Linked DNA regions of Homo sapiens. The protein of the gene in region 4 purifies or fractionates together with the protein of the main gene of each other region. This does not show direct contact. Each region holds a gene or a part of one and is shown on either strand. Other genes may lie near its edges. The genes, in order: SLC35F2, METAP1, NADK2, ITIH3 and TXNDC15.

Region 1 (6,783 bases), on a different chromosome or scaffold from region 4:
TATTCCTAATCATAGAGAAAAGTTGTCTGTACCCTATGGGGGCAGGTATATTAAGAGCTGGGGTCACTTAGAACATATCCTCCTCATAATGAAAACATAACAAGCTCTATGCCCCAATCTTCTCCCTGTATTTAGTACCCAGTTGCCCAAAAAGCCTCTTCTTGCCCCTTTTTGGTAAAAGGAATAGAAATGAGCTATGTGGTTATAAATCTCTCTCTGTATCTTGCCCATATGGTGATAACACATCATATCCATTCACCAACCTCTTTCTACACTCTCCCACCCTTGGTTCCCTGGCCACAGGTGGGGATTCACAAAGCTACTCAAACTTGGGACATGAGTTTTGACAACAAAGCTTAAAATATTGAGTATTAGGAGTACTGGATATCTGGTAAACCACTCTTTTCTGATTGCTGGGTCTGATAAAGAGAAACTGCAATCCAAAATCCAAGTGCTTGGATGGCTGCCAGAGGTAGGAATGGAAACTTTAATTAACAAAAGAGCCCAGCCAACCAAACAAGAAGCTCAGCCCAAGACCCTTGGAATAAAGACCAATAAAGGGAAGAGTTCAGGGAGGGAGGCAGAATGGAAAGGAAGACTTGTGAACCTTTGTCATCCCTCAGTCATTCACTCATTCATTCATTCATGTGCTAAGGGTTGTGGTAGATATAAAAAAGAAAAAGACACCATTTTTGCTGTTAAAGAACTTCGTCCATGGCCAGGCGTGTGGCTCACACCTGTAATCCCAGCACTTTGGGAGGCCGAGGCGGGCGGATCACCTGAGGTTGGGAGTTCGAGAACAGCCTGACCAACATGGAGAAGCCCCATCTCTACAAAAAATACAAAATTAGCCAGGTGTGGTGGTGCATGCCTGTAATCCCAGCTACTTGGCAGGCTGAGGTAGAAGAAGAGCTTGAACCCGGGAGGCGGAGGTTGCGGTGAGCCGAGATCGCGCCATTGAACTCCAGCCTGGGCAACAACAGTGAAACTCTGTCTAAAAAAAAAAAATGCCCATAACTGCTATTCCACAAGAAAGGAAAAAGCCCTCAAAGAGATACATAAAAAGGACATTCATAGACAAAAGAAATCTCATATTTAGGAGGCTACTAGACTGATTATAAAACATACCCGGATTCCAAAAGTATCAGAACATTAGGAGAGAAAAAAAAAAATCAGGCCAGGCACGGTGGCTTACGCTTATAATCCCAGCACTTTTGGAGGCTGAGGTAGATGGATCACCTGAGGTCAGGAGCTCAAGACCAGCCTGGCCAACATGGTGAAATCCTGTCTGTATTAAAAATTAGCCGGGCATGGTGGCAGGCGCCTGTAATCCTAGCTACTCAGGAGGCTGAGGCAGGAGAATCACTTGAACCCGGGAGGCAGAGGTTGCAGTGAGCCATGATCGTGCCGCTGCACTCCAGCCTGGGCAACAAGAGCAAAACTCTGTCTCAAAAAAAAAAAAAAAAAAGAAGAAGAAGAAAAGAAAAGAAAATCATTGTTAATTCTTATCACATCTTGTTAAACATACATCTTGCCATATCATCTGCCCCAGCCTCAAGGCCACTGGCATCTCCTGAAGCAATCACCAAATGTTCCCATCACCCAAGAATAGAGAGCTAATGGTGACAACTAACCCATATAGAGCACTGAAAGGAGCCAGGCTCTGTCTGCCCTTTCCTGCATAGTAACCTTGTAACAGCACTACAAGGTAGGTACTGTTATTATCTCCATTTTACAAATAAGAAAACTGGAGCACAGGCTGGGCGCGGTGGCTCACGCCTGTAATCCCACTACTTTGGGAGGCGGAGGTGGGTGCATCACTTGAGGTCAGGAGTTCAAGACCAGCCTGGTCAACATGGGGAAACCCCATCTCTACTAAAAGCATGAAAAAATTAGCCTGGCGTGGTGGTATACATCTGTAATCCCAGCTACTTCGGAGGCTGAGGCAGGATAATCGCTTGAACCCGAAAGGTTGAGGTTGCAGTTAGCTGAGATAGAGCCTCTGCACTCAGGCCTGGGTGACAGAATGAGACTCTGTCAGGAAGGAAGGTGACAGAATGAGACTCCGTCAGGAGGGAGGGAGGGAGGGAGAGAAAAGAGGGAGGGAGACTGGAGCACAGAGAAGTTAAGTGACTTGTCCAAGAAGGGAGGGAGGGAGGGAGAGAGGGAGACCGGAGCACAGAGAAGTGACTTGTCCAGGAAGGAAGGAAGGAAGGCAGGAAGGAAGGAAGGGAGGGAGGGAAGGAAGGAAGGGAGGGAGGGAGGGAGGGAAAAGAGGGAAGGAGACTGGAGCACAGAGAAGTTAAGTGACTTGTCCAAGAAGGAAGGGAGGGAGGGAGACTGAAGCACAGAGAAGTGACTTGTCCAGGAAGGAAGGAAGGCAGGAAGGAAGGGAGGGGCGGAGGGAGGGAACTGGAGCACAGAGAACTGATTTGTCCAAGGTCACCCAGCAGAAGGAAGGGAGGAAGGAAGGGAGGAAGGAAGGGAGGGAGGGAGACTGGAGCACAGAGAAGTTAAGTGACTTGTCCAAGACGGACGGACACGGACGGAAGGAAGGAACAAAGAAGGAGGGAGGGAGGGAGGGAGGGAACTGGAGTACAGATAACTGACTTGTGGAAGGAAGGACGGAAGGAAGGAGAGAGGGAACGAAGGAAGGAGAGAGGGAAGGAAGGAAGGAAGGAGAGAGAGGGAAGGAAGGAAGGAGAGAGGGAGAGAGGGAGGGAAGGGAGGGAACTGGAGCACAGAGAACTGACTTGTCCAAGGTCACCCAGCCAGGATTTGAGTCCAGAATGTGAGTGCCCTTAGCCATTACACTGAATTGCCTCCCAGCTGAGAACTTTTAACAAATGTATCAGGACATACACAACTGGATGCTACAAGGTGGTTTTCGGCCAACTTTCCCCTTTAAACACATGCATCAATTTCAAACTATTTATATGATAAAAAATGCTTACACCTTTATCGATCTCGTTTTTAAAATGGTATGGCTTTTCAGGACTATCTTTCACAATCGTTAAAGGGAAATTCGCTTTGTTAATATGAAAAAAAAATCAAATATCTGTTTCATGAGTTGTCAGTGGCCAACGCTGTTTAGACTACGGCTTGAACGCATCACCCCTTAAAGATCATCTTGTGGCCTTGGGCAAATTGCTTAGCCTTCTTTGTTTCTCCAGCGGCAAAGTGGATATAACAATAGTACCATCTCCTAAAGTGGTGAGGATTAGCTGATATTATCCATATAAATTGTTATGCACAGTACCTGACACAGAGCGAGTGCCCAATAAATGTCTTTCACTATTTAGGTCCTGGGTTCTCTCATTTCCAGAGTGCAAGTCCTCCAGCAACCACAGAAACGCTTTCTAGAGTCGCTGCCCACTCCTTAAAAACATTTGTCCCTACTTCGCACAGAGCATAGTGATACCACAAACAGGCTTCCCTGGACCCCAGCCCTGGGGGTGGCTATATCACCTCGCTCAGGCCCAGGAAGAGAGAGCCGGCTCTGGTCTCCCACCCGGCAGCAGCACAAAACTTAACCAGGATTTCTCACTTCGGTCAACTCTTGAATCACCGCGCCCAGTCTGGCTGGCTCGGCAGCAGATGGAATGAGGGCGCCGGCGCCAGGAAGTGGCGCTCACCCACCTGCCCAGCCCGAGGTGGGCACTCCTCCTTCACAGCATCCCCGGGGACCTCGTCCCTCCACCGCGGAACGCCCCAGAGGACCGACCTAATAGTGCCACAGGGTGGGTTTCCCCCCAAATCCTCCAAAATACATCGCCACGATTTCGAAACGGGAGCCGAGGGAGACGCACCAAGTGCTTCCCGACGCCAGGTGAAGCGCACCATACCTGGTGTGCGTGTTGAGCCCCGAACCGAAGTCCGTGCGGCCGCCACCTCTGCCTCCCTGCTGGGGGCCTCAGAGAGTGTGCTCCTTGTCCACGTGCGCGCAGGGCCCGCAGCCGCCCCCACGCCCCAGCGGAGCTGCAGCACGCCCCTTCCACTCACCAGGTGAAGAGTTTGCCTTTTATCCTGCGCAGCAGGCTGGAGAACTCGGCCGCCGCTCCCTCCGCGAGGGGCTCTGGGGCGCCGGGGCCCGCTGGCGAGTCTGCCTCCATCGGCGCCCTTGCGCGTCTCCGGCGCCCAAAACCCCCGAAGTGCCGGGTCCCGGAAGACGGGAGGCGGTGCCTGTGCGGCCGGCTGGGGCTCCGCTCTGGCCCTGCGCTCCCTCCCTCGCTCGCTTGCTCGCGTCCCTCTCGCTCCTCCGCTCGGCTCCTTCAGCGACCAATCATTAACTGTCAAGCCCTAAGGGCCAGACAATACATTTGCAGATTACAACCTGGCACCTCCAGGGTGGCAGGAGGAGAAAGGGCAATTTTTTTTTCGTCTTGGCAGCCGAGCCTTATTGTTGAGCGGCACCCAGTGTGCCTTCAGGTTTTTAGGGTTCCTTGTTTGAAATCACAAGATACAGTGACACGAGGTTATTGTAGGTGATTCCTAAGCTAAGAAGCGGTGAGTGAGCAGTGAGTTAGAAGCAGTGAGTGAGCCGGGACTCTCCTAACTGGAAGGACTGGCTGACCCCTCCTCTTCCCTCCCACTCTCCCTCCCTCTGGCTGATTTGTACAAAATCGCTTCATTAAAATAACTGAAGGCTGGCAGGGCGCGTTGGCTCACACCTGTAATCCCAACGCTTTGGGAGGCCGAGACGGGTGGATCACCTGAGGTCAGGAGTTCGAGACCAGACTGGGAAATATGGTGAAACCCCGTCTCTACTAAAAATACAAAAATTAGCCGGGCGTGGTGACGGGTGCCTGTAGTCCCAGCTACTCGAGAGGCTGAGGCAGGAGAATCGCTTGAACCCAGGAGGCGGCGGTTGTGAGCCAAGATCGCGCCTTTGCACTCCAGCCTGGGCAACAGAGGGAGACGTCGTCTTAAAAAAAAAAAAAAAAAAAAAAAAAACCTGAAGGCGCTTCAGGTCTGTGTCGCTTTTCCCTGCAAAACATGGGTAAGATCCTAAAAAGATCTTGGAAACGTGCCTTTGTGGCGTGGATGGAGGCGTGGCTCATTCCTCGCGGTGTGTTGGTTTTGTCTTTCAGTATTCAGTTGTCTCCGCCGTGCCAGGGAGAGAGACGGTGCCAACCCCCGGCGCTCGGCTTGGATGCCCTGCCCTGGCCACGCCTTCCGAGGCTTCCACGGGCTAAAGAGGGATTAAGAGACACTAAGCTGGGGTCGAAAAGTTCCTGTCACTGACCCCCTGCTTCCGGAAAGGAGGAGATCCAGAAAACAAAAGAAAAGGTGTTGGGACCTTTTATTTTTTCCTGGCCACCTGCTTTGGGGGTTGGGGTGGGTCAAAATAAACGTAGGTTCAAATAGACAGGCTGTGCAGACGAGCTGGCAATTCTGTAAGAGGAGTCTAAGAAAAAAAACAGCTTTCGAAAATGAAATATTACTTCAGGAACCCCAAGTTTAGCAGCTGCAGGAACCTCAAAAAAACCTTTGAAACTAAGAACGTGGTCATCCGTAGAGACTAATTAAGTATTATAATACAAGCATATTATGAAACAAGAGGACATTAGAAGCACATTTAAGATGTCACTTTTGTAAAGTAAACAACTCATTTAACCCTGCATATTGACAACGTTGAATTCTACCTGAGCCCTGTGCTCCTGGAAAGTAATGACAATTAAGAAACCTTCCTAGGCCGGGCGCGGTGGCTGACGCCTGTAATCCCAGTGCTTTGGGAGACCGAAGCGGGCGGATTACTCCTGAGGTCAGGAGTTCGAGACCAGCCTGACCAACATGGCGAAATCCCGTCTCTACTAAAACTACAAAAATTAGCCCGGCGTTTTGGTGTGTGCCTGTAATCCCAGCTACTTGGGAGGCTAAGGCAGGAGAACCACTTGAACCCGGGAGGCAGAGGTTGCAGTGAGCCAAAATCGTGCCACTGCACTTCAGCCTGGGCAACAGAGTAAGACTGTCTCAAAAAAAAAAGAAAGAAAGAGAGAAAGAGAGAAAGAAAGAAAGAGAAAAGAAAAGAAGCCTCCCACCTTTTTTTTTTTAATCAAAGATTTTGGTTGAATTTCTCTTCCTCCCTCATACCTCTGAACTTTCACCCACCCTGACCCTGAGCCGCAGGTAACCCCTCCTTAATAGCCCCTCCTGAGAAGTTGGCCTCAGGGTGAAACATTCTCTAATCTATTATCCAGTGGAGAGCCACCTTTTCATTCCACTTCCCACCAGTAGGGAATAGGCCCCCTCCTACTGCAGGAACCCTTCCCCACAGTCCCCACCCATCCCCATTTGCAATAATCCCTACAAATAAAGTCTCTCCTTAACCAAATTTGATTTTTTATTTGCAATATATACAGTAGTCACCTCCTTACCTGAGGTTTTGATTTCCACGGTTTTAGTTACCACAGCCAATTACCCTCTGAAAATAGGTGACTAGAGTATAGTAAGATATTTTGAGAGAGAGACCACATTCACATAACTTTTATTACAGTATATTGTTATAATTGTTCTATTTTATTATGAGTTGTTAATTTCTTACTGTGCCAATTTTATAAATTAAATTTTATTATAGGTATGTGTAGGAAAAAAGTATATACTGTATAGGGCTAAATACTCTCTGCAGTTTCAGACACCCACCGGGGGTCTTGAAACATAAGGGAGGACTACTATGTTTGATTATGTGAGTATGAAGAAAAATAGAAGATACACGTCAACACCAGTAACTTTAAAAGAGGGTGGGGGGCCAGGCACAGTAGCTCACACCTGTAATCCCAACAC
Region 2 (6,247 bases), on a different chromosome or scaffold from region 4:
CTTTTTTGCTTTGAATTAAAAAATAATGGTCTCCTTAGTTGTTTGTTTTTTGTTTTGTTTTTTGTTTTTTTTGTTTGCTTGTTTGTTTGTTTGTTTTTGAGACGGAGTCTTGCTCTGTCGCCCAGGCTGGAGTGCATGGCACAATCTCGGCTCACTGCAAGCTCAGCCTCCCGGGTTCATGCCATTCTCCTGCCTCAGCCTCCCGGTAGCTGGGACTACAGGCCCCCGCCACCACGCCCAGCTAATTTTTTGTATTTTTAGTAGAGACAGGGTTTCACCATGTTGGCCAGGATGGTCTCGATCTCCTGACCTCGTGATCCACCAACCTCGGCCTCTCAAAGTGCTGAGATTACAGGTGTGAGCCACTGCGCCCGGCCTTGTTTTTATTTTTGAGAGAGTCTTGCTCAATCGCCCAGGCTGGAGTGCAGTGGCGCAATTGATCTCAGCTCACTTCAACTTCTGTCTTCTGGGTTCCAGTGATTCCCTGCTTCAGCCTCTTGAGTAGCTAGGATTTCAGGTGCACGCCACCACACCTGGCTAATTTTTGTATTTTTAGTAGAGACAGGTTCCGCCATGTTGGCCAGGCTGGTCTCAAACTCCTGACCTGCCTCAGGTGATCCACCTGCCTCGGCTTCCCAAAGTGCTGGGATTATAGGCATGAGCCACCGCACCCAGCTTATTTTTTAAAAAGTAGGTTAATGTGCATAGATTTTGTTCTTCTTTGAAGATGAGAAAAACACAACAGCTTATGAAACATTATGAAAATCATGTAGTTTCTATGGGCTGTGCACCTGTGTGCAAACACATGCTTACCCCCCAAAGCGGTGGGAAATTTCTGGCATAATCTGAAACATCTGTCATTCTCCTTTGAGCTTCTCTACCCGGATGAGTAGTGGAACTCTTGGTTCTGTGATTGCAATTCTAATCATGAGGTAATAGAAATCAAGGCACTTTTCTTTTATTCTTTATTTGCCACTTTTCTTTTTATAGAAGTGATACTCATCTCTGAAATACAGCCTACAAATACCTCTGTTTTCCTAGAGAACACATAAGCGTAATTGAAATGTGCCTAGGACAATACGTGCACCATATTAGATGGCTGCCAGTATAATACCTGTTTGTTGAACTTTAAGAAAGGGAATCAGGGTAATTAATTTAACAATCACTGATGGGAATTTGAGTTATGTACTCTTTCTAGTTAGCTGTTCAACAGTACACTGTTGGTTTTGCTACCTTTTGAGATTTTTTTCTTTGATTTCAGAAAATAAAGCAGTTGGAGTGATGAAGTCGGGCCATGTATTTACAATTGAGCCAATGATTTGTGAAGGTGAGAAAAAAGGATGCCATGATATTTTTCAATTGAATTTATATGTATTTTAGGTAATTCATCATGTCAGTGGTCTTTTCTACCTGCTTGCTTTTTGCTTCCTACTCACTCCCTGTCCCACCTCAAACTTGATTCAGTATCGTGAAGAACTGAAAATTGTGAGGGTTGGCAAGAACGGCATGGGTTCTGCGTGGTAGTCTTCTGTCAGGAGATGCTGAAATGCTTGAATTCTGGTCCCTTTTCATAAAGATCATGTCAAAGGGTGCATTGTAATAATGAGGTGCCCAGGTCAAGTCTGTGCGGACGTTCTTGCTTGATGTAGGAGAGGGAAGAGGAGGGAACAGAGCAGAGCATTGACGAGCCACCCAGTTCGAGGCAGACATGATTATATGATTTAATTCTTCACAATTTATAAGGTAGGTGTTACCCCATTATAGAAACTAGGAAACTGGTCCTTGAAGAGGGTGGGTAGCTTGCCTGTAACTTAGCTTGTTACTTGGCAGAATTTGTCAGACTCAGCTCATGAGCTGTTCTGACCCTTCATGGTCTGTACTCATGTCATCACGTGGCATCATATAGCTATTGTGGGGAAAGCACACCAAGGACACTTGGAAAGCACACTTGGCTCTGGCAGCCTCCCCACTGTTGTCATCTCTTCCAGACAGGCTTGTAGCAGTGATAGGAGACTGGGAGTCACAATTAGGGCTCCTCACCGAGATTTTCAGAGTGATTCTGGTAATGGAGCTTTCTGGTTAGGGGATGCAAAGTGAGGCAGTAGCAGTAGAGCTTGTGTGTCCTGAGCCCTGTTTTAAAGGATACTCCCTCTCTTGATCCTTCCAGTCTTTTTATAACCCAGTCTTGGGAGTGACTTCTATATTGTCTTTCTTAGAAGTGATTCACTGAATCCAGCCCGCACTCAAGGGGAGCAGGAGCTCACACAAGGGCCTGCATGCCAGGAGGCTGGGGATCACTGAAGTCACTTTAGAGGCTGCCTTCTAAAGCTGGTTCCTTATTGCGTTTTCTGTAAAATGAAAATTAGAATCTCTATCTTGCCAACACCCAGGGCTGCTAGACTGAGATGATTTATGTTATGTTATATACTTTAAAAGACTGCACAAATGTGCAGTAAAGTTTTTGTCATCCTCTTATAATAAGGATAAAGTTCTGATCACGTGCAACCAGTTGTAAAGATGGTAAGTATTTAGCAGTGAAAAGAAAGATAGTGGGAGGAAATTGTCATTTTGGCTACGTATTTCCATTAACTAGCACCTGGTTGGTGAGCCATGATGTAGTGTTTTCAGTAAGCAAATAACTTTCTATACAGCCAGCACAGGTAATTAATCATCAAATTATAGCAGATATACTTGAAGTGTAACTCAGCTAGGTTAAATCCCTGGACTAGAAAGTCTCAAATCTGCAGGAGAATTTCCTCAGAATAGCCAAATAAGTTTGACTTGACATTACTAAAAATCCTGTTTTATCAGATCACAATAAAATTACAGTAGTAATGTTTTAAATTTGTGTAAAGGCCATTTGTGTAAAGGCCATTACATTGAAAAACATCGATGTACTCATCTTTAGTTGCTTGATGAGGCATGAGTTAACTTTTTTAGGCCGCCTCGTATTTTCTTTTTAGCCTGGGATTTAATATTGCAAAAGTAGTTTACTTCACTACAGAGTTTATGTTCTGGGATTTGTCTGTCTGAGGCAGTGAGTCCTAGAGGTAATATGTTTCACCTAAAGATTACTCAAAATGAAGAAAGTATTGATTTTTTTTTAACATCTAATTTTGAAAGAAGAAAGCTCGCAAATACATCTTTTACAGTAGTATCTAGAATTGCCTTTCTCATTCCACCTCTGCTTCACATTCTCTTGGGCCTTTGCTTTCTGCTTTCCCTCATTATGACCCCTTCACCCCCTTTCCCTCCTTTCTCTGAGTTTTCTTTCATGGCCTCCCAGATTCACTGTCCCTTTGCTTCCCTTCTCTGGTTTCAACTCCTGTCCAGACCATTCTGCTTCATATTTTTCTTATGCTCTCACACCAGTCTTTCTTTTGCCCCTCTTTCTGATTCCAGGGGTATAGTTCACAAAAATTTCACTGTATAATCTGTTCTCACCATCTGTTTGTGTGCCTACCATTTTGAAATTATATCAGGAATTGAATGCTGTAATAAAACTGTAAACATTTACATGATTTCCTTCACAATATATGCTGAGTATAGTTTTGTCAGATGCCCAAGTTATACTAGGAAAGAGCTAAATTCATTCAAGTTTTTTTTCTGATTTTTTAATTGTAAAATACACATCTCATTTTTAAATGTACAGTTCAATATTATTAAATACATTCATAACGTTGTGCACCCATTACCACCATCCATCTCCAAAAGTCTTTTCATCTTGTAAAACTGAAACTCAACCCATTAAACATTCCCTTCCTATTGCTCACTACTCCCAGACCTTGGCACCCACTGTTCTGCTTTCTATCTCCATGATTTTGACTACTGTACTCTACCTCATAGAAGTGGAATCATTAAGCACATGCTTTTTTTTTTTTTTTTTTTTTGAGACGGAGTCTTGGTCTGTCGCCCAGGCTGGAATGCAGTGGCGCGATCTCAGCTCACTGCAAGCTCTGCCTCCCAGGTTCATGCCATTCTTCTGACTCAGCTTCCCGAGTAGCTGGGACTACAGGCGCCCAACACCATGCCCGGGTGATTTTTTGTATTTTTAGTAGAGATGGGGTTTCACTGTGTTAGCTAGGATGGTCTCAATCTCCTGACCTTGTGATCTGCCCGCCTCGGCCTCCCAAAGTGCTGGGATTACAGGCGTGTGCCACCGCGCCTGGCCAAGCATATGCTTTTTTATGACTGGCTTATTTCACTTAGCATTATGTTCTCAAGGTTCATCTGTGTTGTAGCATATTGCAGAATGTCCTTTTTAAAAAATTTCCTGTTTTAAAATGGACAATTATTGTACATATTCATAGGGTACATAGTGATGCTTTGATACATATAATGATACATATAATTAATTAAGGTTGTTACTCAAAGTTGTGGTGATTGGTATCAATATGTTGTTAAAATGAAATCCAGCGCCTTTATTTTGGAAATTCCATCTTGATTTGATATTTGGGATATATAAAAAATGTGGTTGTAATACATCTGATGAAATTTAAACATCAAACATACTGAAGACCAAAATGAAGTTGGAAAGGCATTAGCTAAAACAATTGGCATGTAAATAAGGATCTTAGTAGTGAATTTTTTCCTTGGCTTTCTTCTTGATAGAGTTCATTTAGAAAACTGAGTGAACTAAGAAATTGTTTTTGTTTGTTGAAGGCGGATGGCAGGATGAAACCTGGCCAGATGGTTGGACTGCGGTGACAAGAGACGGAAAGCGGTCTGCTCAGTTTGAGCACACCCTCCTGGTCACAGACACTGGCTGTGAAATCCTAACCCGGCGACTTGACAGTGCACGGCCTCACTTCATGTCTCAATTTTAATTTCTCCCAAGATGGCACATCTCAGTACCTTCTTACTGTGCTATGCATTTTATTGAGAGTACAGAAAGGAAGAGGAACCTTTTTTTAATCACTTGTTTTGTTTTGACTATAGATAAGAAAGGACTACAGCATTTGATGTGTGTCCTCAAGAACTTGTCTTGGGTCTGAAAAAGCTGAGAAGAATAAAGGAAACATTGCTCAACTCTTCAGCCCCCTCCCCCTGCACACCTGTTTTCTCATTTGCCCTTTGAGCACTTTTACTTAAACTTGCTTGTAGTTGCTTTTATCACTGCCGCAAAACAGCCATCAAGAGCCATCTGCTTTCCAGGTGAACATTGGAAATGAGAATCTTTGAAACTTAGCAATATGTGTTGCACCAGATTTTTTAAATTATATATATGGAAATATATATGTATACATTTTAAGTTCTGTATACATAATTACCAAACACTATGTGACCTGGAGTTTGTGTTGTTTCTGCTCTGACAGGTTTATATGTTCTTACAAATGGATCCATAGTTTGCAGTGATTTAATTCCTGGTTGGGATTTGGCCTCCCCTCTCCCCCATGCTAATTATTTACCCTTGTAATTGTGCATAGGGAAGCACTCACCCAATGAGACTTTCTCCAATGTGGACTCTGTGTGTCAGTGAATGAATGTAGTAAAATTCACTTTGGAAGGTTATCAGGCTTTTAAAAATCTAGTTTATGGCAAAAATAGCCATTTTCCAAGTGGTGGCTGACTGTTGCAGGGAATGAGAATTTCATAATACACTGCTATTTCAGACCTCTGTTTGGTCAGAAATGGAAAAGAAAAAGCCCCCTTTCTTCCCTTTTCTGTTTTACTTCAAGGGCATACCTTGGAGGTGCTCAGAGAAGCGTGAAGTTTGCACTATGGTGGAGGATGGGGAAAGAGTTCTAAAGTGTCTCCAGCTGTGAACCCAGGAGGTCAAGTGGGCTATTAAAATCTAACGTTGAGTAAATGTGATAGTGATGAGAAAGGAATTTTGTGTACTGTAACCTTGCAGTAGAGATGCAGCTGTCCTTCGTGTGTGGAAACACACCTCTCCTTTACATAGTTGGGAACCTCATTAGAAATGACCTCAGCTGCCCCATATCTACGTTCCTTTCAGCAGTTGTCCAAGTAGGAGTGTATCCAGTGAAGACATATCAAATCACAAAGTCATTGTCATTAGAGTGTACTTGATTACTGGGCATCCTTGTAATATAATTTCATACCACTGACACATTATACTTGTAAGAGAACATCTTTCCCAGAGTGCCTCAGACCTTATTGCTTTAAAATATAATAATGTTTTCATTACTTTTATTATTTGAATGATTTAGTAAAGTTGACTGAATCTGGTATAGACTTTGGGAGTATGTGTGTGAAGTTTTTATCAAACTGTAATATTTGTGAA
Region 3 (5,166 bases), on a different chromosome or scaffold from region 4:
GTGTTATACTTAAGTAAAAATTTTAAGTACAAATTTTACATGAAAATAGTTAACACTCTTATTCAATACTTAATATTTGTAATGTTAGTAATTCAGCATTTAATCATATGAAAACAGCCTGTGAGTTCAGTCAGGTCTGCACTTCTTTACTGCTAAATGCTTGAGCGAATGGTGCCATCCTGAACGTTTTGAGACCTTCATAATATACCCATATATTTACATAGTGACTAATTTTCTCATACCAGAGAACAACTTGATTTTTAAAATGGAGGCCAAATGATCTGCTAGGTTAAAATTCAGGATTAAAATAACCTATTAAGAAAACTATTACTATTTAATGAGATATTTCCTTCTGCCTAGGGTTTGTGTTCGTTCTCGTTGTTGGGATGCCTGTATGGTTGTGGATGGAGGAACTTCTTTTGAGTTTAATGATGGTGCAATTGCTTCGATGATGATCAATAAAGAAGATGAGCTTCGAACTGTGCTTCTTGAACAGTGAAGGATTTCCTCATGACAAATTTTGATTACTGGCGAGAATATTTTTACTTCAGAAACAGACTACCAGTCGTAAAGTGACATTTTTTGGTTATTGTTGAGACTGCTTGCCCGTGGGCTCAGAAGTGAGATTTGCATTATTCTTCTGTTGGATTCTGATAGAAAAAAAGACATTCACTGTATAAGAAAATGGATGGACTGAACCAATTAGAATTGATACCAGTGAAATTTTTATATTGCTTACAATTGGTAACCAAGAGTGCTGATACCTTTTTAAATTTAGAGGGGCAGGCTTAAATAAAGGACTAAATATTTAGGATTTGAAACTTAACTGTATAAGTGTGTTTTCCTTCCCTTTCCTCCTAATTGTGGGATTGTCAGAACTGAACACATATCATTTGATTAGTGCATATTTTTTATAGTACCTGAAAACCAAGATTTTGAAAAAATTTTCAAGACAGAGAATTTTGATAAATCCTGACATTGACCTAATTGACATAGGTAAATATGTTTGTATATGTGCTAATAATTTTCTAATTTCGGAACACGATGATGTTATGACTATTGATTTAAAAATTTCAAATAATAATTTTTGAAATTATAGATGAATGCTTTCATTTGAGTTTCATTCTGTAATTCAGCAGTTCTGGGTGAAATACAGATAGCAAAACAAATCATGATGCTGTTACAAATGTATTAGTTATCCAATAAGTGTTTTAAGTCAATTTTTTTAAAATGATATGAGTCTTACAGGTTTCTTCCATCTTTAAAATGCTCAAACATGGATTCAGGGACTAAAAGGATGAACTGATTAGACATTTTCTATTAGGAGTTTGGTAAAATATTGTAAAAATATCTTCACCTGTGTTAGGAGTATTATCAGAAAGAATGGATTCTTTAATAAATATGTAAAACACAGTAGTTTTGGAATTGCCTTCCTTAGTATTGTGGTTTTCACCTAGCTTATATTCCAAGATTTACAGAATAGCTTTTAGGATAAGATGTTAGGACTTTTTTTTTTTCCCCATGAGAATTCCTTTATTTTTGGAGGAAATTATTATCTAATTATTGATCTACTTATAAGTAATCCTAGAATTTTTGCCAAAAGATCCTGTCGTTGCATAATCAAACAGTTGGTATTCTCGTGCCGTTGTTCAAAGTCATGTGTTTCTTTCATTTGGTGCTGAAAATTTCTGTTCAATCATTGACAAATATTTATTGAACACCCACTCTGTGCCATGTAAAACTATGTCAGGTGCTGGATATGTTGATGAATGAAACAGACTCTATCCTTATACAATTTGAGTCTTGTGGGCTCAGAAGTAAATTCTGTGAAAGCTGGACGGATAGTCGAATTGAGTGCTCTTAGTTTTGCCAATATTTAACATGTTGTTCTTATCAATTTTTTAAAATAAATGTTAATGTACAAAGTTAATCTAGGTTTTGATGTATATCCAGAGAATCAATTTTTCTTAAAGTATCTGCGTAGACATTCATAGCAAAGAATTTATGACATATCAGATAGAAATACATTAAAATGTAGTGTTTTCCCAGAGATTGATCTGGCTTTTTTTTTTTGATATACATAAGATACCACTTTATAAAGAAGCTCCATACTATAGAACCTCCCCTAACAGGCTTAAAATACCTTCTTTTTTTTTTTTTTTTTTTTTGAGAACGGAGTCTTGCTTTGTCACCCAGGCTGGACTGCAGTGGCATGATCTCGGCTCTGCAACCTCCATCTCCCAGGTTCAAGCGATTCTCCTGCCTCAGCCTCCCAAGTAGCTGGGATTACAGGCAGGCACCACTATGCCTGGCTAATTTTTTGTATTTTTAGTAGATATGGGGATTCACCATGTTGGTCAGGCTGGTCTCGAACTCCTGACCTTGTGATCTGCCTGCCTCGGCCTCCCAGTATTGGGATTACAGGCATGAGCCACCATGCCCGGCCTTAAAATGCCTTCTTAAAGGAAAAATGCCAACTCCATCCTTAATCTCAAGGAAATCTGATTGTCCAAATAGATCTGTTAATATGTAACATATTAATAGGTAACTTGCTGTGTAAAATTATAAGCCATATTTTAAAAGGTTTTAAAAATACTTATTGTGCTCCATTTGTGATATAATTTCTAACATTTCTGCTCTGTGATGGGGGTTTATTTGTAAGAATAAGAGGCAAAGGAATGTTAGCATAGCAAAAATGTGTTTGAATGAGTTAACCTTTTAATCGCAACCCTATGTGAATAAAATTACTCCACTGTTACCTCTTCTTTTTAACATTTCTTATTTCCCTCTCAAGGGGTCATTATTTGAAAACTAGTTTTCACAAAATGTTATGTTTCAGAAGTGTTTCCCCACTGCTGTGTATTATTATTCTGTGCCCTGTTGACTTCATTCACTGTTAACATTTGACATAGAATGATTAGTTATTAAATCAGGGTGAAGTGCTTACCTGGTCAGTGTAGGCTCTTCAGATAATTTTGACTTAATATTTTTGATACTCCTTGTGCATTTACATTCATGGCCCCTGTACATTAAATCATATTACATGTTTTACTACATTGATTTCACTTTTTAATAAGCAGAAAGAGAGCCAGGTAACACATTTTTATTGTAAAATATCCACTTGAGTTGAAAAAGTTGTCAAATACAAGTTTAAGGATACGTTATATATTTTGCTTAGTTGTGAAAATAATGTACATTTAGAATTTAAATCACTTAAATTCATTCCATTGTACCAATATTATTTATGCATCCTTATACTTAAGAATAGCATCTACTAAGACAATTATGCAGAAAAGATCCCAGGGATAATGCAACACCTAAATATAATGGTGGGGGAGATAAGAGTAAATGTACTAATGAGTTGTCTAACTAAAGAATAGTTCAATTTTATTTTTTCAAAGGCATTTTATTCTTGACTTTAACATTAAAAGTACTCAAGGGATTGGGGCATAAGTCAGTGAGAAGGCTTATTAAGTTTTCTACATTAAGGTATGAAGAGTTTTTAAGTCTTACGGGCTTTAAGACTTTTTTTAAAGAAAATCACTGACTACATGAGCTAAAAGTAGAAAAGCATATTTTAAGTGTTAATCTGAATACCTTAAATATAGTGATTTTAATGCTCAAAATTACAATTTAGATATTCTGGTATTTAGAGAAATGTAAAAATACCGGCATTTTAGTATTTAGATTTGCTAAAACATAGTAACTCAAAGCAGTTACGTTTTGAGTTATCCATAATATTAGTATAGGCTTTTAGGGCTTTGACTTGTATCTTGAAGGGTTAGTCTCTTGGTGAAGAAAACTTTGATTTTCTGGGATATTTGGCTAGGTGGGGAGGAATAGTAAAGAAAGAGGAGGTTGTCATCTTGCTTGTTCCATGGTTAGGGTATGCAGTGACAAGAGGTTTCTTTCTAGTTTGCCCAGTCTCTAGACTACTTGCCTTTGTTTCCTCATAGGCTCTGCATCTTCTCCTGGGCTGTTGTATCCTGCACATTGTGGATGGTCAATAAATGTTGAAGTGTAATTGGGTTCACCAGGATAGGACACAAGCGCTTTATCCAGAAATAAAGTTTTGCACTTGGCCAGTGTCCCTCATGTCTCTGGAGCTTGTGGATAGGGTCTATTAGGAATCAAGAGCCCAAGAGCAGGTAAAGTGACAGCAGTGAAAATGAAACAGACAGGTATGTATCTGAATAGAAGAACAGGATATTACTTATCAAGTGTCTCCTGGCTAAAAAAAAAAAAAAAAAGAACTTGATGATACAAGCCTCTGGAGCACTGACACTATTGACATTTTGTCCAGACAATTCTTTGTTGTAGGGGGCTTTCCTGTTTTCGGATGGTTAGCAGCATCCTTAGCCTCTATTGCCTGTATGCCAATAGCACTTCTCTTGTGACCATCAAAAATGTCTTCAGATGTTACCAAGTATCTCCTGGGTGGGGGAAAATCACCCCTGGTCTAGAGCTTTTTGTTGCTAGATCTAACCACCAGTTTATGGGAATAGGGGAAAGATTAACCTATTACTCCAGGGATAGACGCAAAATCCAGAATGTAGAACACAGGACAGATAACATAGTTTCTTCAATAAATAAATTACAAGGAAAGAAAGGAAGAAACCCTAAATTTAAGATTTAGAGAATTTAAATCAAATGCAGTATGTACACCATGTTTGGATCCTGAGCAAAATAAACCCATTGAAGAAAACACGAGACAACTGAGGAATTGTCAACACCATCTTGATATACAATGCTTCAGGATTCACGCAGGAAAATCCCTAACTTTTAGAGGTATATACCAAAATAGTTATGATATTATGGGTCTGGGTTTTGCTTCAAAATTATCTGTATTGGAGGGGAATGGTTGAGATCATGGATTCAGTGAGATTGGCCAGGAATCAATGACTGTTGAAACTGGAAGATGGGGTCCATCATATTCTTTTTTTTTTTTTTTTTTTTTTTGCATATGTTTGACGTTTTTCATCATTTAAAAAAAGGCATAGTGGTGATAGGACCAGCACAATTGGGTGATATTCAAGAATCACCATTCTACCATTCGAATGGAAGGGTCCAAAAGGAACAGAATTCCTGGAAGGCCTCTGGGCATACAGTGAACATTCAAATAGTTTCTGAATGACAATAAAACACATAGTATAACCTGATCAAATA
Region 4 (4,998 bases):
AGCCTGCAGTCTGAACACTTCGTACCCAGCAGCCCATGCGTCTGTGCTGACATCCGGTGACTGTCCACCACGTAGAAGCCTAGAAAGTCACGGTGGACAGGATGTTTCTTCCACACCTGGTGTAGGACGACCACGAAGGTAACCCCATCTCCAAAGGAGACCACCATGTTCTTCCTGTTGATCATCATGGACAGCCTACGAGAGGAAGCCAGAAAGTGGCTGTGGGGCCCAGTGGCCGTGACACTGGGCATCTGACTCAAGGGCGTTTTGGTGGGGCCTCCCCTGTACATGGCACCCGAGGGCCCACAGACTCCAGAAACTATCTCAGGGGCGTTGGAAAGAGGATGCCTCATGCACACTGTCTCCCCTCCCGTGAGTGGATCCTTGAGTGTCTATAAGTGGGAAAGAGAGGGCTGGCCTATGAATCTGGAGGCCTGTGGTCCAGCCTCAGCTAAGCCACTGACTTCCTGAGTGACATTGGGCAGGCTCCACACCTTCTCTGAGCCTCAGTGGGAGGCTCTGGGGGATCTGAAGACAGGAGAGCTAAGAAGACAAGAGCAGCCACAGAAGAGGCAAATGGGGGCCATTATCACCTAATGCCTTCACCCAACCAGCTGAACTGTGCAGCTACCAATTCTGGCTCTGATAGGGCCCCAGGGTTTGGTTGGGGGCCACTATGGTCACCCTCCCCTGTGACAGGAGACTGGATTCTGGGGTCTCTGATCTTTCCTGTGACCCCCATGGATCTCCTGTCCTGGGATTTTTCTAAATCCCTCAAGAGCCTCCTTAGACTCTCACCCTGTAGTCCACCTTGGAGACCTTGTAGGGGAGCTTACCCATCCTGCGTGACTGTGACTGTGTCCAGCCAGCTGAAAGTGCTCGGCACGGCCCTGTTCCACAGGGTGATCTTCTCCGTTGTCACCTCCACCTGGAAGTCCATCTGAGCATTGGCGATGCCCAGTTTTCCAAAGTAAGTCTTTCTGGTCTTGGAGTCAGGGCTGCCTCTCTTGTCGCCAGTGATCTGCCCATTAACTGTGAGGCCTGCCAGAGGGATGGGGCAGGGAGAGAGACCAGCGAGAACTTCTGAGTCCAGATTGCCTTTAGGGGTGTGCCTTCCTCTTCAACCAGACTGGCTGAGGGGCAGCAGAGCGGGGGCCACAAGAGAGACCAGGACTTCAGAGCCCAAGCCTGTTGGTTCCTAGACACTCTAGGTTTGGGTCATGCTGGGACCTTATGGGTCTGCCACTTGCCTGGGCCAGGGAGTGTTGTTCAGAGAAAAGCTATTCCCCAGACACAGGCTGGGTCCTACCCTAGGCCCAGGTGGTCCATTCACGCTAATCATCTCCCAATAGCACTGGCATGTGGGGCTGAGCAAGCCTGTGGCCCTGGGCACTCCCCACCCCCAGGGGTTTCTTTGCATGTGAAGATGATGCCTTACTGGGCAGAGTGAGAACCTGTTCCCTGTGCCTACCTCGGGGGACCCAAGCCCTCCCAGGAAGAGCCCCCTGGCCCCGGCCCTAGCCCACAAGCCTCACCTGTGACTGCATCCTGAATAAGGCGCAGCACTGTGCCTGGGGCTTCATCGATGTTGAAGCAGAGGGCATCGTCTTTCTCCGGAATTTGGATGATGAAGTGGGGATCCCCGTCCACTGGTGACACATTAGAGAAGGAGCTGACTCCCGGGGCCTCTCATCATACCTGGGGCCTCCCCCAGCCTTCTGGCCTCCATGGGCTCGACTCCGAGACAGGCAGGAGCACGTGCCCAGGCCCCTGAGCCTTCCCGAGGAGCAGCCAGGGACTCACCATAGTAGTAGGGGTTTTGAGGAGGCTGGTAGCTGGCTGCAGATACAAAGGGAGAGAGGGCTGAGCTAAGCAAGTGGCCCTGGGAGGCGCCCGACGACCCCCATAGGAGTTCAGCTTATGCCCCTCCCCTCCCCTTCCCGCTCGCTAATGCCATTGCCCTCCCACCCCGCAATCTCCTCAGGGCACATTGTCCATCTGCCCATCCCGGAGAGCTGAGTGAGTAGCCACGGTGGAGGGACATGTGGCAGGGGCAGGCTCTAAGCAGTGGGAGGAGTGGCAGCTGCCAGCATGTACTCACTCAGGTAGGACATGGCGGGGCTCACCGGTGTGGCTGAAAAGCCGAAGGGCAGTGGTGAGCAGGGTCTAGGGGTTCCTTCTCCCCCAGCCCCGTGCCTTCCTCCTGTCTTAGCGCTGCTGGGCCCCAGAGGGGCCCCAACACTGGCAGATAGAGGTGGAGATGTGACTACAAAGATTAGGCTTTGGAAATCGGGCACGTCCAGGGAAGCCCTTTATGGGGCTGGTGGCAATGGGATGTGATTTTAACGTTGGCGCAGGGCTTTTTGATGTGGCTGAAATGCAAGCCATTAAGTCATCTTCTCTCTCTTGAGTAATGCTCACAGCAAACATCTGCCCCACCCCTGGGCTTCCCACCCCCTAGTTGGGGTGAGTGAGGCTCACGGCTGTCTGTTGCTTCTTGATAGTAAACACCCACCCACACGTGCACACAGGCGCACACATATGCGTGCACATGCATATATGTACTCACATGCACCGGTACATTTATCAGGGCTGTTCTGAGGGGAATGTGATGGCCCAGTCCAAATGTGCCAGTCCAAATGGAGGTGGGGCAGGCCAGTAGGGGCTGGGGAGGCCCTGCCTAGTGGCAGGGAGTTTGTGAGGTTCCAGTTTTGTGGTGAGAGAGGCACAGAGGACTGTGATCCCCAGCAATTCCCAGCATGGGCATTGGGGCCAGACTGCCTTGGCCTAAGTACCAGCTTGGCCATCTGCTGAGTCTGTGAGCAAACAGACTGAGCAAATTAACCCCCCGTGCCTCAATTTCCCCATTGTAAAATGGGGATCATAAAAGGGCCCTCTTGGAGGGTTGCTATGGGACTAATGAAGTATAAATGACTGACATGCTAAATTGCTCATTTTTGCAGGTCATAGATACTGTCATACTGATTGTGTCTCCCTGGGCAAGGGAAGCCACCCCCAATTAACTCACAGGGATCCTCAGGCTCAGAGAGGGGCACGTTCATGATTTGGCAATAGGGCTGGGCCTGAGCCCAGGTGTCCCAAGTGTGCCCCCATGGCTGGGGGTCCTATCTTGCTTGGAAAGGCCTCCTCAGTTCTCTCTTGTCTCCCTTCCATAATGCCCAACCCGGTGGCTGGCTAAAGGCTTACCTTCTGCATCTGCAGGTGCAGCAAGGGAGGAAGAAGAGAAATGCATTAGAAGCCATAGGGCACTTGTGAGCAGGGACCAGAGCTGGCTGCTTGGCCGACCAGCCCTAGGCTGTGGGCCTCCCAGCAGCCAGCTCTTCCCCCACTGGGTGTCCCCTGGAACTAGGAGTTCTTGGAAGCCAGAGGCCTGGCCTGGCCAGGCCCAGCTCTTTGCCTCCCATGTCTCCCAATGCCAATCCTCCACCACCACACACAGACCCTGTACCTAGTTGCAGTGGGCATTTGGGACCCCCTGTTGAGTAGGGCAATCTGGGGTCTGGTTGAGGGGGTCCCAGCCTCCAGCTCTCAGGGACTCTTCCCCTAACAATCTCCAGGTGCCTGATAGCCTGCTCCAGGCCTTTCATGTTGGAAGTGCTTCTTCTTGTCTAACTAAGCCCTTCCATGCTGCAGCCTCAGTCCTTTTCCTTGAAATGCCCCATGGGCAGTGTGCCCCCTTTACTCACTTCCCTTTAGAGGTGCAGAGGCTCCTATTCACCCCACACCCCACTGTCCATGCTGACTGCTTCACGCTCCACCCCACTTTCCCCATCCCGTGGCCAGTTTTCCTTCAGATGCCCTACTTCAGCAGGTCTGGGTCTCCCCAGCCTGGCCCACTCCTCCACTGGACACCCAGGTAGGGTGCCCAGCACAGGAGGCCTCCGGGTTCCGGCCTCCATCCCTATCCCCACCTTCCCCAGGCTTGTCGGCAATGGCCCTCTCATCCTCGTTGTCCTCAGGCTTGGTCACCACCATTGAGGTCAGTGGAGTCACAAAGTGATACTTGAGGGACAGGTCCAGGGCCCGGGCCGTGAGGTTCTCCTTCTCCTCGCCATGGGCGTTCTTGCTGTGAGGAGGGGCCAGTCAGGAGGACAGCCTGGAGAGCAGCACCCTGCCCACTTCCCCTGCACTGGAGCAGTGGACACAGCTGGGGATCCCCACTCCACCTTCCCCATTGTGGGGTCCCCCAGGGTACAGCCCAGTTGGGCTCAGAGAAGACTGGCTCACAACTCCCTGGGGCATGTGAACAAGCCCTGTTTCCTTGCTGGACCTTGGTTTCCCCACCTATAAAACGTAAGGACCGGCCGGGCATGGTGGCTCACGCCTGTAATCCCAGCACTTTGGGAGGCCAAGGCGGGTGAATCACCTGAGGTCAGGAGTTCGAGATCAGCCTGGCCAACATGGTGAAACCCCATCTCTACTAAAAATACAAAAATTAGCCAGGCATGGTGGTGCATGCCTGTAATTCCAGCTACTTGGGAGGCTGAGGCAGGAGAATGGCGTGAACCCGGGAGGCGGAGCTTGCAGTGAGCCGAGATCCCGCCACTGCACTCCAGCCTGGGCGACAGAGCGAGACTCCGTCTCAAAAAAAAAAATAATAATAATAAAATAAAATAAATAAATAAATAAATAAATAAATAAATAAATAAATAAAATAAGGGGCTACAACAGCCACTCGCAATGGTGTCCATGTGCAGAGCACTCAGCATGTGCTAGATTGTGTACTAACGGCTTCACAGTCTAATCCCACCCACACCAACACTGACCCTCTCAGTGGGCTCAGCTCTGCCCTCTGGGCACTGAGGGCTGGGATCCCGGCCTTCAGTTCCACTCAGCCTCACCACCCCTGGGCCATGCCCAGTGTGGGCAGCAGGGTGCTGAAGTCCCCCCTACCCCGGGGCACTCCCAGGCTGCTGGCCAGGGGACTTGCCAGCTTGAGCCTTGGGGCTGACAGGATGGGGAGTGGCGGCCTGGGGT
Region 5 (6,247 bases), on a different chromosome or scaffold from region 4:
TATTACCTGAGAGTCCTATTTTTGCCTTCTGTATAGTAAGCATGTCATTCTACTCACTATTCTGCCGGAATACATCTTCACATTTCAAACTGGATTACTTTCCAAATACTGGATTACGTTCATGCAGTAAAAACAAGAATAGTGCATCTATTGAATATTTTTGCATTTGCTTATTGCAATACTAGTTAAAACACCAGTTTATAATTTTTTTATACATTCAGTTGTTCAACAAATGATTCTTTTAATCTGCCTGAAGTTTCAAGTCAACACGTCACTGGAGAAAATGTATGAAACTGTAGCACTAATTTCTGAAACGAAGGATTGAAGTTCCTCTTTCCAACTTCTTTCAGACCATCACTACTCCACATGTTCCTGCTCTTGTCCTGGAATTAGCCACCGAATACTCTCAGTTCGAATGGTAGCATACATAATAAAACTAATTAAAAAGAATAAGGAAAATACAAGCAACCAGTCCACACTTTTTATCAAAGTGCTGGGAAGAGGGCCTATTTGGTCGGCTTGAGTTACCACCACATTCTTCTTGGCTTCTATACCTGAAAGAAAAATCACTGGTTTCAAATCAGGCAGAAAAAGCACCCACCACAGATTTTTCTCAAGTATTATGTATGGTATGCAAAATGACATGCAGTCCTAAAATAAGCATTGCCACTAGTATATATATAAATATATGGGATGGATTTCACTTGCCTATCAGTGTAATTTGTAAGTTGCCTTTCTCCCCACTGCATCAAAGGATCAGGAACCCATTCAGCTGTTCACAACTAAAACACTAGAATTTCTGTGAACTCATCAGAAGTTTCTTAGTCAATGTGTTTATAAGAGTTGTATTTTGGTGTCTTTTGAGACCAAAGTTCAGTAAGTAACTAGTAAAACTCCTCTCAGGTGTCTACAGAATGTTTTCACAGGTTAAGTAATGCTAAATTCGAAATGCTTTTTTTTTTTTCTGTGATGAAGTCCTGCTCTGTCTCCCAGGCTGGAGTGCAGTGGTGCGATCTCAGCTCACTGCAACCTCCGCCTCCTGGGTTCGAGCGATTCTCTTGCCTCACCCTCCCAAGTAGCTGGGATTACAGACACACACCGCCATGCCTGGCTAATTTTTTTGTATTTTTAGTAGAGACGAGGTTTCACCATGTTGGCCAGGCTGGTCTCGAACTCCAGACCTCAGTTGATCTGCCCACCTCAGCCTCCCAAAGTGTTGGGATCACAGGTGTGAGCCACCGCACCCAGCCCCAAAATGCTTTTAATAATTTACTGAAAGAACTGTTATAACAACAAGCCACCAACGGAAACAGGGATTACCAAAGATGCTCTGACTCCCAGATTTGTGTTCTAGGTTTTCTTAGAGCACTGAATAAAATGGCTCCCTCTCCACACATCAATCGAAATGACAATCAGGGATCCATGACAAGACTTGGACTAGCTAACCACCTTGTAATATCCTACTTTTACTCCTATCAGCCAACTCAGCTCTTTTTTCTTTAGTGTTAGCTAAAATGATTATATGCAATTTAATATATATGCAATGTGTGTTATAATTTTTATTTATTTCCAGTGAGCATACTTTGGGAAGAGTGGGATGCTCACAATTGAGACAGTGAGGCTTTAGAGGAATGAACTTTTCCAATGGAGGTAATTTTTTCAATTTACAATGCTTTACAATGTTTTACAAACAATAAAAAATAAGGCCATATGTTTTGGCAAATATTAAGGAACTAAGATAGCATCTACAAATGGATTAATAAATGGAACAGTAGCAGCAAAGAAAAAGAACAAAACATAACCATACATGACAATGCAGGTGCATCTCACAAGCATACTGTTGGATGAAAAAAACAGACACAAAATAAAACATCCTGCATGTCTCCATTAATATGAAGTCCAAAACAAGTAACACAGTCTATGATATTAGGAGTCAAGACTGTGGTTATCTTTATCTTTGGGGAAGGCAGGAGCAGTGGTGCTGAAGGGAGGCTGGTAATGTTCTGTTTCTCTTTTTTTTTTTCTTTTTTTTTTGAGACGGAGTCTCACTCTGTCAACCAGGCTGGAATGCAGTACTGTGATCTCAGCTCACTGCAGCCTCTGCCTCCTGGGCTCAAGCAATTTTCATGCCTCAGCCTCCCGAGTAGCTGCGACTACAAGCACCCACCACCATCCCCAGCTAGTTTTTGTATTTTTAGTAGAGACAGGGTTTCGCCATGTTGGCCAGGCTGGTCTCGAACTCCTGGCCTCAAGAGATCCACCCGCACAGGCTTCCCAAACTCCTGGGTTTACAGGCATAAGCCAGTGCTCTGTTTCTTGATCAGAGTGGTTACCCAGGGTGTTCACTTTGTGAAAATTCATCACCCTGTACACTCATGACTTATGCATATCTTTGTGTAAATATTAAGTGAAAAATGTGCGTTAAAAGTTATAAGTAAAGTGTATGGTATGTGAATTATATTTCAGTAACACTTGTTTTAAAGTATCTATAATAGGCCAGGCACGGTGGCTCACACCTGTAATCTGAGCACTCTGGGAGGCCAAGGCAGGCAGATCACTTGAGGTTAGGAGTGCAAGACCAGCCTGGCCAACAGGGCGAAACCCTGTCTCTACTAAAAAATACAAAAATTAGCCAGGTGTGGTGGTGCGCACCTATAATCCCAGCTACTAGAAAGGCTGAGGCAGGAGAATCGTTTTAACCCAGGAGGCAGAGGTTGCAGTGAACTGAGATTATGCCATTGCACTCCAGTCTGGGTGACAGAGCGAGACTCCGTCTCAGTCAATCAAACAATAAAGTATCTATAATAGACCGGGCACAGTGGCTCACACCTGTAAAATCCCAGCACTTTGGGAGGCCGAGGCGGGTGGATCACTTGAGGCCAGGAGATCGAGACCAGCCTGGCCAATAAGGCGAAACCCTGTCTCTACTAAAAATACAAAAATTAGCTGGGCACACGCCTGTAATCCCAACTACTCTGGAGGCTGAGGCACGCAAATCACTTGAACCTAGGAGGCGGAGGCTGAAGTGAACTGAGATCATGCCACTGCACTCCAGCCTGGGCAACAGAGTGAGACTCTGCCTCAAAAAAAAGGAAAAAAAGGCTGGGTGCGGTGGCTCACGCCTGTAATCCCAGCACTTTGGGAGGCCGAGGTGGGTGGATCACGAGGTCAGGAGATCGAGACCATCCTGGCTAACACGGTGAAACCCCGTCTCTATTAAAAATACAAAAAATTAGCCGGGTATGGTGGCGGGCGCCTGTAGTCCCAGCTACTCGGGAGGCTGAGGCAGGAGAATGGCGTGAACCCGGGAGGTGGAGGTTGCAGTGAGCCAAGATCGCACCACTGCACCCCAGCCTGGGCGACAGAGCAAGACTCAAAAAAAAAAAAAAAAGGGAAAAAAAAAGTATCTATAATAATTAAAATTACCTATTCATGTTAAACTTCATACTGATTGGGAAGTATTTAACAGGATCATAACAGTTCATTAGAAGAGAAGTTTTACAACTCAAAGTCAGTCTTGAATCCTTCACTTAAGGATTATAGCAGATCAGAACCCACAGAAGGCACAGACCCCCAGCAATAGAATATCTTCTTCCTCAGCACATTACTTCCACATACCTGTCTGATTAAAAATGAAGATTTTCAGTGTTTCCAGTGTTCGATCTGTATGATTAAATCTGGCCATTGGTTTAGCTCCTTGAAATAATAAAATATTAGGAACAGCTACGGTGCCAAACCTGGTAGAAAGGCTACAAGAGAAAGAAGTCAAAAAACCTGAATTTATTATTAATAGAGGGCTTTCTCATACAATTACCATCTCAGAATAGACAGAAATAAATGAGGAAGTTGCGTGTGACCTACGGAGATTTCTGATACTTGAAACTTTTGGCTTTTTCATTTGTTTCTGACCTCTTTGCTTATGGGTCATGGCTGGGGGGCACTCCTTTTCTGCAATCTGAGTTGCTTTCAATTATAATATGGATCTACCAATGGCACAATTATTCCACTAGTTAAGTTCCTGTCTAAACAAACCAGACCAGAAAACTCTAATTCATGGACAAAGCACACTGTGTCAACTTATTTGACAGAAAAAATTTCCAACTCTTCAGAATGCCCATCCCTGTCCCTCAAAAAAGATCAACTTACAGTAGGCAATTGGTTTGGTAAGCTGGCACAAGGGAGTATATGATCTAACAAACACACCAGGATGTTCACAATTAGGGCAGGATGACTTGTTTAGAAGGAATATAACTGTGCGGGCTTATTTCACCTTTACATAATACAGACTAGTGGTGATAAGCTCCCAAGTCAAAACACTCTGGGTTGAAGCCTCAGTTCTGCCACTGAACCAATGTGAACTCTGGGCAGATTATTTAACCTTGCTAAGCCTCAATTTTCCGCATTAGTAAAATAGTAATAGTGTATAACCAGGATTTTTTTCTTTTGTACACATGCTGTAACTTAAATATTAACATAAGAAGCAAACATGTCCCAGCCCATATAATAACAGCAAGAGCCTTAGTCTCCATAATTAAGATACAACATGGAGCTGAAGGAAGGAAAGAAGAAAGCAGGTTAGGGAGGGAGTTGCGGGAGAGGCAGGAGGGACAGTGTGAGACCCAGAACCAAAGAGCACTGAGTATGCCTGGGGGCAGTGGAGGCCCCACCAAAGCTGGACACTGACGTGATCTGTCCTTCCAATCAGTCTGCTCCCTTGGGCCCAGTCACTTAGATATAACCCAGAAGCCTATATGAAAATTACTAATTTGTTGAGCCATTTCTTTCTTCATAAAAGTTTCAGGTAAACATTGGCAGTTATATTCCCACAATGAAAATCAGTGGAATACAATTTTTTTTTTTTTGAGACAGGGTCTCACTCTGTAGCCCAGGCTGGAGTGCAGTGACAGGATCACGGCTCACTGTGACCTTGACCTCCCCTGGTTCAGGCAATCTTCCCACCTCAGCCTCCCAAGTAGCTGGGGTACCACAGGTATGTGCCACCATCCTCAGTCAATTTTTTGTATTTTTTTTTATAGAGATGGAGTTCTGCCATGTTGTCCAGGCTGGTCTCAAACTCTTGGGCTCAAGCAATCCTTCTACCTTGGCCTCTCAAAGTGATGGGATTACAGGTGTGAGCCACTGCACCTGGCCTCAAGTACAGAGTAATGGAAGTTTACTCAACTTCATTTTACCACCAATTGACCATTTTTCAGATGTTCTAGATTTATTTACACACAACCTCCTTGTTGAGGCTGACCTACTAAGGAGCATCTGATTTGGAAGAGAAGAACAGTTTATAACTCAGGCACAATCGCAGCACTTAGGAGAAACATATACCATCTCAACAAAGTTCTCTGTAACTTACTTTACTAAACATTTAAAAAAGACAAAAAGTGGCTCACACCTGTAATCCCAGCACTTTGGGAGGCCGAGGCTGGTAGATCACAAGGTCAGGAGTTCGAGACCAGCCTGGCCAACAAACGGTGAAACCCCGTTTAAAAATACAAAATTAGCCGGCATGGTGGCAGGTGCTTGTAATCCCAGCTACTCAGGAGGCTGAGGCAGGAGAATCACTTGAACCTGGGAGGCAGAGGTTGCAGTGAGCCTAGATCACACCATTGCACTCCAGCCTGGGTGACAGAGCAAGATTCCACCTCAAAAAAAAAAAAAAAAGAAAAAAAAAATGACCAGCCTGGCATGGTGGCGCATGCCTGTAGTCCTGCTACTCAGGAGGTTAAGTCAGGACGATCGCTTGAGCCCAGGAGTTCAAGGCCAGCCTGGACAAAAACCCAGTGAATGATACACGAGAAATATAAAACAAAGATAAATGTCATGTTAAAGAGCTAAATTAATTCATGACTTGATCGAGTGCCTACTACAGAACATGACTGCAAGAATAAGTACGCAGGAAAGAAAGAAGGAAAGAGGGAAAGGGAAAAGAAGGAAAGAAAAAGAAAAGGAAGGGAAGAAATCCTGAGTAGACACAAAACAGGGGTGCTGGGAATTGGGCTGCCTGGGATGGGGATTTAACCTGCGCCTTAAAGTCACAAAGGAATATCCTACTGTGATACCAATTGTGCTGATTCAGTCTGGCTATGGCCCTCAAAAGTCTTCTGGCCCCTCCCCTGCCATCAGGTGCTACCACCTGCCACCTTTAAATCCACCACACAGAGAACAGCCCACTTTCTTTAAGGGGCCTCCATAAAGTGACACCACCAGCTCCCTCAGGAGTATGATAATCCTCACT

The links.
Region 1: the proteins of ITIH3 (region 4) and SLC35F2 fractionate together in Homo sapiens (co-fractionation; one large-scale study listed by BioGRID). This does not show direct contact.
Region 2: the proteins of ITIH3 (region 4) and METAP1 purify together in Homo sapiens (affinity purification with mass spectrometry; one large-scale study listed by BioGRID and IntAct). This does not show direct contact.
Region 3: the proteins of ITIH3 (region 4) and NADK2 fractionate together in Homo sapiens (co-fractionation; one large-scale study listed by BioGRID). This does not show direct contact.
Region 5: the proteins of ITIH3 (region 4) and TXNDC15 purify together in Homo sapiens (affinity purification with mass spectrometry; one large-scale study listed by BioGRID and IntAct). This does not show direct contact.

Annotation. Positions count from the first base shown.
Region 1 is NC_000011.10:107,854,656-107,861,438, forward strand, and holds the start of SLC35F2 (solute carrier family 35 member F2), read right to left. Parts: upstream 4,133-6,783; 5' UTR 4,113-4,132; coding exon 4,003-4,112; intron 3,925-4,002; exon of another isoform or gene 3,846-3,924; intron 1-3,845.
Region 2 is NC_000004.12:99,056,492-99,062,738, forward strand, and holds part of METAP1 (methionine aminopeptidase 1), read left to right. Parts: intron 1-1,261; coding exon 1,262-1,327; intron 1,328-4,662; coding exon 4,663-4,826; 3' UTR 4,827-6,247. UniProt on the Homo sapiens protein: Cotranslationally removes the N-terminal methionine from nascent proteins. The N-terminal methionine is often cleaved when the second residue in the primary sequence is small and uncharged (Met-Ala-, Cys, Gly, Pro, Ser, Thr, or Val).
Region 3 is NC_000005.10:36,190,477-36,195,642, reverse strand, and holds the end of NADK2 (NAD kinase 2, mitochondrial), read left to right. Parts: intron 1-360; coding exon 361-499; 3' UTR 500-2,943; coding exon of another isoform or gene 2,944-3,022; 3' UTR 3,023-3,054; downstream 3,055-5,166. UniProt on the Homo sapiens protein: Mitochondrial NAD(+) kinase that phosphorylates NAD(+) to yield NADP(+). Can use both ATP or inorganic polyphosphate as the phosphoryl donor.
Region 4 is NC_000003.12:52,802,944-52,807,941, reverse strand, and holds part of ITIH3 (inter-alpha-trypsin inhibitor heavy chain H3 isoform 4 preproprotein), read right to left. Parts: intron 4,088-4,998; coding exon 3,933-4,087; intron 3,217-3,932; coding exon 3,208-3,216; intron 2,681-3,207; coding exon of another isoform or gene 2,570-2,680; intron 2,135-2,569; coding exon 2,102-2,134; intron 1,840-2,101; coding exon 1,804-1,839; intron 1,650-1,803; coding exon 1,536-1,649; intron 1,042-1,535; coding exon 837-1,041; intron 357-836; exon of another isoform or gene 220-356; coding exon of another isoform or gene 196-219; coding exon 26-195; exon of another isoform or gene 1-25. UniProt on the Homo sapiens protein: May act as a carrier of hyaluronan in serum or as a binding protein between hyaluronan and other matrix protein, including those on cell surfaces in tissues to regulate the localization, synthesis and degradation of hyaluronan which are essential to cells undergoing biological processes.
Region 5 is NC_000005.10:134,893,796-134,900,042, reverse strand, and holds part of TXNDC15 (thioredoxin domain-containing protein 15 isoform 1 precursor), read right to left. Parts: intron 3,750-6,247; coding exon 3,619-3,749; intron 555-3,618; coding exon 358-554; 3' UTR 1-357. UniProt on the Homo sapiens protein: Acts as a positive regulator of ciliary hedgehog signaling. Involved in ciliogenesis.